2 linked regions of the Homo sapiens genome follow. The protein of the gene in region 1 purifies or fractionates together with the protein of each later gene. This does not show direct contact. Each region holds a gene or a part of one and is shown on either strand. Other genes may lie near its edges.

What was found.
Region 2: the proteins of ITIH4 (region 1) and SERPING1 purify together in Homo sapiens (affinity purification with mass spectrometry, with the first as the bait; one large-scale study listed by BioGRID). This does not show direct contact.

What each region holds. Positions count from the first base shown.
Region 1 is NC_000003.12:52,813,379-52,817,193, forward strand, and holds part of ITIH4 (inter-alpha-trypsin inhibitor heavy chain H4 isoform 1 precursor), read right to left. Parts: intron 3,681-3,815; coding exon 3,506-3,680; intron 986-3,505; coding exon 831-985; intron 694-830; coding exon 597-693; intron 113-596; coding exon 43-112; 3' UTR 1-42. UniProt on the Homo sapiens protein: Type II acute-phase protein (APP) involved in inflammatory responses to trauma. May also play a role in liver development or regeneration.
Region 2 is NC_000011.10:57,603,989-57,607,803, reverse strand, and holds part of SERPING1 (plasma protease C1 inhibitor precursor), read right to left. Parts: intron 1,795-3,815; coding exon 1,591-1,794; intron 1,397-1,590; coding exon 1,257-1,396; intron 1-1,256. UniProt on the Homo sapiens protein: Serine protease inhibitor, which acrs as a regulator of the classical complement pathway. Forms a proteolytically inactive stoichiometric complex with the C1r or C1s proteases. May also regulate blood coagulation, fibrinolysis and the generation of kinins.

The sequences.
Region 1 (3,815 bases):
GAAGCCAAGTGTACAGGGTGGGCACAGCTCCTTCCATCAGAACTACAGCTCCACAGACCAGCAGGAAATCTCCACTCCCGGGGGCCCCTCCTGGTAATCCAGCCTGCGCTCTCTGAAATGGAAAGACAGACAGATAGGCAGGTGGTCAGCAAATCTCAGGTGTGGTGCGAAAAGAGGGAGACAGCTGGGGACAGGAACATGGAGGGCAGGGAGTCCTGGCGTCCCTTTAGAATTCCCTCCAGCATAGGCCAACAAGGCCCAGTCACCCAGAGCATTACCCTAGAGAAGCCAGTACGTGAGGTCTCCAGGGTTTAGGCTCTGGGAGTTCAGGGTGTGGACAGGGAGAGGTTCCGACTGTCCCCAACCAACCCCAGGGATCTCAGGGCCCATGTGTTTTCTGTGGGTCTGAGATGGCCATCCATCTTTTGTGGGGTCACTGAAAGCTGGCTTAGACACTTCTACAGCATCAACCTTCCACCGGACTGTGTCTAGTTCCTGGGCAAGGACAGGAGTGGGGCCCTGGAGAGCCTGGCTCCTGGCCTGCCAGTCCCCACCCCACCCCAGCTGGGCTCAGCGGTCTGCTTGTGCCAAGTCACCTGGTGGCAGAGTGGTCATTGCCCTGAACCCTCAGCGTGCGTCTGCCGTCATCTGATGCTGCTGGAGATCCCCAGAGCACCTCCTGGTAAAACTGGCCTGAGATACAAAGGGTGGATCAGTAAGGGTCAGAGACAGAGGAAGCCTGGGAGACACACGCAGGGGAGGGGCGCTGCCTGTTCCCAAGCACAGCTGGTTTCTGAGGAAGGCCTGGGCCCCGGTAATGGGCTCAGTACCAAGGGTCCCTCCAACGTGGCTGGAGAAGCGGTCAGTGTCACGCAGAAGGAGCCGGAGCCCCTCCCCACGGCCATCCCAGAACAACAGGCCGATGGTCACTTTGTCTGGGTCACTGAGCAGCAGGAGACCCGTCTTGTCCATGGTCATCTTCAGGCTGTGGAAAGACCCAGTGTCTTGAGCAGGAAGGTAGAGACGTGTGCACAGAACCTCAGTAGTCAGGGTGGGGAGTGGGCTGGGCTTCCCCTCTTGTCCAGGAAGTCACGGAGTGGCCTTGGGTGGGAAGGCCCTTAAATCTTCTGATTTCAGTTTCCTCATTGGTAAAATAGGACCAAAGTTAACTTAATGATGTCTAGTTTCCCCATCACTTTTTTTTCTTTCTCTTTTTTGGTGGGGCAGGGACAGGGTCTCACTCTGTCCCCCAGGCTGCAGTGCAGTGGTGTGATCTCAGCTCGTTGCAACCTGTGCCTCCTCGGCTCAAGTGATTCTCCCACCTCTACCTCCCAAGTAGCTGGTACTGCAGGTACATGCCACCATGTCCAGCTAATTTTATTTTTAAGAGAGACAGGGTTTCACCATGTTGCCCAGGCTGGTCTCAAACTCCTGAGCTGAAGCAATCTGCCTGCCTCAGCCTCCCAAGGTGCTGGGATTACAGGCGTGAGCCACCGCACCCGGCCTCTGGTTTTCTTAAATTCAGTTTGTCATAAATTAATTTTATATGATTGAAGGAGTTTCTCTGATGCATCCACTCTGTCCCTTTTGTTCTACAGCTGGTGCACTCTCTTTGGATGACTTGTGTTTAATCATGTGTTTAATGTCTAAAGGATAGGCCTCTTCTCATTCTGTCTCCTCAGATTTTTAGTTAAAATAACCCTTGAAATTCTTGCCTTTCTGGTGTTCTCATGAATGTTAGGTTCCTTTGAGCATGTTGAATAAGACCCTGCTGTTACTCAGAGGTTATTTGAAACAAATTTTCCCTAAACATACACTGTTCTATTGCTTCAATTCAATCTAAAATATGTGGGTTTTTTTCTTTTTTCTTTTTTTTTTTTTTTGAGACGGAGTCTCGCTCTGTCGCCCAGGCTGAAGTGCAGTGGTGCAATCTCAGCTCACTGCAACCTCCACCTCCTGGGTTCAAGCGGTTCTCCTACCTCAGCCTCCCGAGTAGCTGGGATTACAGGCGTGCCACCACACCCAGCTAATTTTTGTATTTTTAGTAGAGACGGGGTTTCACCATGTTGGCCAGGCTGGTCTCCAATTCCTGACCTTAGGTGATCCACCTGCGCTGGCCTCCCAAAGTGCTGGGATTACAGGCATGAGCCACCGTGCCCAACCTATTTTTCTTTATGTCTTCTGTAGCTCATGAAACTATTTGGACTTTCTCTCCCTACAATTAATAGGATTTTACTTCTATTTCATTTTCTAGGCATAAAAATGCTATTGATTTTGGTGAATCTACCAGATAGCAAGGAATTTTAGATCTTTTTTTTTTTTCCTTTTTTCGGAGATAGGGTCTCACTCTGTTGCCCAGGCTGGAGCGCAGTGGTGTTAACTCAGCTCACTGCAACCTCCATCTCCCAGCTTCAAGCAATTCTCAGCCTCCTGAGTAGCTGGGATTACAGGTGCCCGCCACCATACCTAGCTAGTTTTTGTATTTTTAGTAGAGACGGGGTTTCACTATGTTGGCCAGGCTAGTCTCAAACTCCTGAGCTCAGGCAATCCACCCACCTTGGCCTACCAAAGTGCTGGGATTACAGGCGTGAGCCACCACACCGGGCGTAGATCTTTTATGAAATTGGGAAGGTTTTTGGGTGAGCCCTTGGATAAGCTGGGTGTGCACTCATCTGTCAAGTGCAAGGGAGTTCCCGCAGAGGGCTTGGTGAGACAGGGCTGGACAAGGCTCTCCATACTTGGAAAAGGGTGAGCTGTGGCACAGGGTGGGGGCTTGGAGGTCACTGCCCACAGAGGACGAGGGCCTCAGCCCTTCCTGGACGCCCCTCGTGATCTGCAAAGCTGGAAGACTGTCCCTGGAAGGCCACTGTGAAGCAGTGAGCTCCCTCACCCAAAAGAGGTGGCCTTCTGCCTCCATTATTCACCAGCTGCTCAGTATTTGAGGCCACTGACTTGTGTCTCCTTAGCAAAGCTCCAAGGATACGCTAAAGAGAATGCTGGTAACATGCTGTCAACAGTGCTCTCCAGCTTCTCACTATTGTCATCAGAACATCACGTCACTATGTAGGCAGCGCTGTCCTGTGGGGTGCTTGGGGGGCACTGTATCATCTGACGGCAAAGTGCTCCCAACTACACTCTCTCATTGGGTTCTCCCCCCAGCCTTCTGACTCTGGGCCAGGATGATTAGTACTGGTTATTGGTGAAGAAACTGAGGCTCAGAGGGACTTAGCTGCCTGCCCAGGGTCACAAGGATTAGCAGCAGAGCTAGCTCCAAACCACACTGTCTCCTGCATGGGATAGTGACCTGGGTTAGGTCCCTGGGACAACTCCTCAGTGCCCTCCGGAGCTGCAGGGGTATATGGCAGGGCTCTTGTCTCTTTGCCCCTCCTGTGAGTGTAGCTGCTCCATTCTCAGGTCCATGGCCTCAGGCCACCTGCTGGTACCATCATCAGCCACTGTAGCCTGAAAGGTCAACCCCTGCCCCGGGCTCCAGCCTGGGCCTTACCCGGGCATCACTGAGAATAGCGTCTCCTTCCACTTGTACGCAGAGCTTCTTCGGTTCCGAGTCACCACCACGTGTTCAGGGGATGCGTGAACCCATACCAGGGGGTTCTTGAAGGTCACTTCGATCCATGAGAACCCAGCCTTCTCCCTCTCATACTGGCCAGTCACCTCAACCCCTGGGAGGACCAGACCAGAGAGGTCATAGCTGGGCCCCAGCCAGGTCTGACACCGACCTGCATGGGGAGTCCCCCCTGATCACACCCCCTGGAGTTCTGCAGCAGCTCCCTCCCTCATCAGGAGGGGTGCCCCTT
Region 2 (3,815 bases), on another chromosome or scaffold:
CCTGTAGTCCCAGCTACTTGGGAGGCTGAGGCAGGAGAACTGCTTGAACTCGGGAGGCAGAGATTGCAGTGAGCTGAGATCATGTCAATGCACTGCAGCTTGAGTGACAGAGTGAGACCCTGTCTCGAAAAAAACCCTCCTCTATGAAGTCTTCCAGCCACTTTTACTGAGTAGCTCTCTTTGGCACCCTCTATTTCATTCATTCATTTATTCAGCAAACACTGAATGAGCACCTATGATAGGAGGCATTGTTCTAGGCACTACAGATACAGAAGGAAACAAGACAGGTTCCTGTATTCAAGTAGAGAGACAGTATCTTAGGGAGACAGACAATGTCCTAGGCAAATAAGCAAATAAATGACATAATTTCAGATGGTGATGAGTGTAATGAATATAATAAAACAGGAGTGATATTACAGGGTGAGGAGGAGGCTGCTTTAATGGGGAGAAGACTTCTCCACCAAGGTGACCTCTGAGCTGACACCCAAATGACAAGAAGGAACAAGCTATGTGAGGATCTGAGTGAAGAGGGATACAGGCAGAAACAAAAGCTAAGGAAAGCTCCCAATGTGGAACCAAGCCTAGCATGTTCCAAGAACAGAGCCTTTGTTTCTCAGCCAGGTATTGAGACATTGTCTCTTACTGTTTTCTGTCTCATAGGTCTGTGTTTTGCCATCCTAAAAAGGTGGAAATATCTGGTAACTGGGGATGAGATAGCTTGCCAGTTGGGATCCTCTGGGCTCCATATTCTGTCTTCTCTCCCTCCCTACTCATCAAACTAAATTGTTCAATTTCTGCTAATGCACTTAAGCCATTTAACTCATGTGCACACATGCACTTACCACATATATGCATATACAAGGATATACTTATACACGTCTACACATGTATATGTATGCTGTACACAGGTACCCACATACACACAGGACTTGCTAAGCCACCAGAGTCTTCTGATGAGTTGACTGGAAAAAGAAACAGATGTGTAGAATAGGAACACGACTCACATTTTGCCATTCAATATAGTAGAGATGCATGAAGAAACTTGAGAATCCTGTTTCCAGCCTAAAATATACAATGTCTGCCTTGGCCAAGGCTAGAGAAAGGAGAAGGAGAAAAGATAGGGTGGAAATACAGATGGAAGGAGTAGAAGTGATGAATTTGTAAGCATGTACCCCAAAATGATGGGACTACAGCAGAAAAAAAGTCAGGAGACTCAAGTAGGTTTCAAACAGGAGAAGGAAAGGTTAAGAACTTACCTTGGCTTTCAAAGTTTGGTCAATGAAATGGGCCACAGGGTACTTCTTGCTATTCATCATGGGCACTTTTATAACTGAGTTTTTGAAGTGAAAGGGTTCCATTCTGGTTTTCTTGGGATCAAATGTTGTCTTCCACTTGGCTAGAGGGAAGAGGTGGGAGGGTTGCTCTAATGCAGGTAGGAAAAGGATGAAGAGGAGCTAAAAGCCTTGTTAGCAAAGAGTAGTGCAGGGACATTGAGATCCGATTGTAGAACTTGGGGTTAAGTGGGCTTTGAAGCCAGGAGGGGAAGAAGGACCCAGAATGGGAAGACTAACTGGCTAAGGGCACCCTTACCACTCAGGTAGATAGCATTGAGGAGGACAAGGCGGGTATCGGAGGGCAGACTGTCTAGCAGCCGGCTGATCTTGTTGTTGGTGTTCTTGGCCACCCAGGTGTTGATGAGCTCCAAGTTGGCGTCACTGTTGTTGCTTAGGACTCTGGGGCTGCTGCTGTACAGGGTCCGAGAGGCATTCACAAAGGTGTCCCTTATGGCCAGGTCTGGGGGTATGTTGAGAAAGGGAGGCATGAGTCCTGAACACGTCGTTCTTTCCATGAGCACGATTTGAGAGTGAGCATGCTTTCTATGGTTCTATCTGCTCACTTAGTGAATACGGCATGGTGGAGCGCGGTCCAGCCCACTCCTCTTACAGATGTGGCAAATAAGGCCCAAAGAAGGTAAACCCAGAACCAAGAACAAGAGAAGTAGCCCCAAGCCTCCGCTGCCTCAGCTTGCTATGTGACTATGGCTCGGCAAGATAATCTTTTTGAGATATTAAATTCCATTTGCCTAGATTTTCCCTCTTTTCTTCCCTTAATTTTGGCACGGAATAGACTCTGCTTCCTGGCCTTGGTGGAAGTTTGTGACAAAACTTCCTGGCTTTTGCTCTGCAAAAGCCTTCAGTCCACTGAAAAAAAAAAAAAAAAAGCACTTGAAAGATAATTTTTCTAGGACTAAGTAGATTAAAGATATTTTCCCCAGCTGGGCATGGTGGCTCACACCTGTAATCGCAGCACTTTGGGAGGCCAAGGTGGGTGGATCACTGGAGGCCAGGAGTTCAAGACCAGCCTGTAATCCCAGCTATTCGGGAGGCTGAGGCAGGAGAATCACTTGAATCTGGGAGACGGAGGTTGCAGTGAGCTGAGATGGTGCCACTGCATTCCAGCCTGGGCGACAGAGCGAGATTCTGTCTCAAAAAAAAAAAAAAGATATTTTCCCAGGCTTTGCTGATGCCTAAGTACAACATAAGACCAAGAACCTTGCTTGGCACAGCTCCAGTGTGCAGCTAGATGGGGATAGAAGCCCTAATATTGAATGCTGTTACGTATTTTTCACCAACCTAGCAAGACAGCGGATAAAGCTGACTTACAGCTTTGTAAGTAATAAATAAATGCAACATTTCTTGAACACCTCTGAGCCATGTTTTTCCCACATCTGAAAGAGGGTGTTTTTCAGATGATGGGGTGATAGGTGAGTTTTTAAAATTTAAATTAAATTTTTTTTTTTTTAGAGACAGGGTCCTACTCTGTTACCCAACCTAGAGTACAGAGGCATAAACATAGCTCACTCTAACTTCGAATTCCTTGGCTCAAGCAATCCTCCCGTCTCAGTCCTTCATAGCTGGAACTACAGACACGTACCACACCCGGATAATTTTTAAAATTTTTTGTAGAGATGAGGTCTGTCTATGTTGCCCAGAGGCTAGTCTCGAAATTCTAGCCTCAAGCAATCCTCCTACCTCAGCCTCTCAGTGTTGGAATTACAGGCACACTGAGCCAGACCTAAGTATTGTTTTTACAGTTTAAAAAAAAACAAAAAACAAAAAAAACAGCTTAAAAAAAAGTTTTCCTTTTTTTTTTAAAAAGGGAGGTGGGTAGATTAGTTCAATGGTTATCAAACATTTTAAAGCAGCAGAACTGCTTTCAAACAAAGGCATGTCTGAAGCCCACAATATAAAATGGACCCTGGCTGAGGCTGGGTGGGGAGCTCAGAGCCCAGCTGGTCCGTTTCCCTCTCACAGGAAGTGGTGAACCCTTCCCCACTGCTCAGGCTCCCCACACCCCACTCCCACCATGACTCCAGAAACAGCTTTGCAAAGTCCTAGGGCTCCGAGGAACAAAGTCTGAAAACAACTACATTGGATCGTTTTGTAAGTTTATTATTAGTATTATCATTATTACCTACTTAATAACATAATACATGTAAATGATAACAAATTCACATAACACAAAAATTAAAAGAATTAGAGTCCCAAGACTCCTTTGACCCAAAAATGAGCAAAAAAATTTTTTGTCTATTTTATGTCTATAGCTCTCTAGCCCTCTAGCCCTATATATTAATGAATGCATATGGGTATTCTTCTTTTTTTTTTTTTTTTTGAGACAGAGTCTCGGTCTGTCACCCAGGCTGGAATGCAGTGGTGCGATCTCAGCTGACTGCAACCTCTGTCTCCCAGGTTGAAGTTATTCTCCTGCTGGGACTACAGGCGCGTGCCACCACACCTGGCTAATTTTTGTATTTT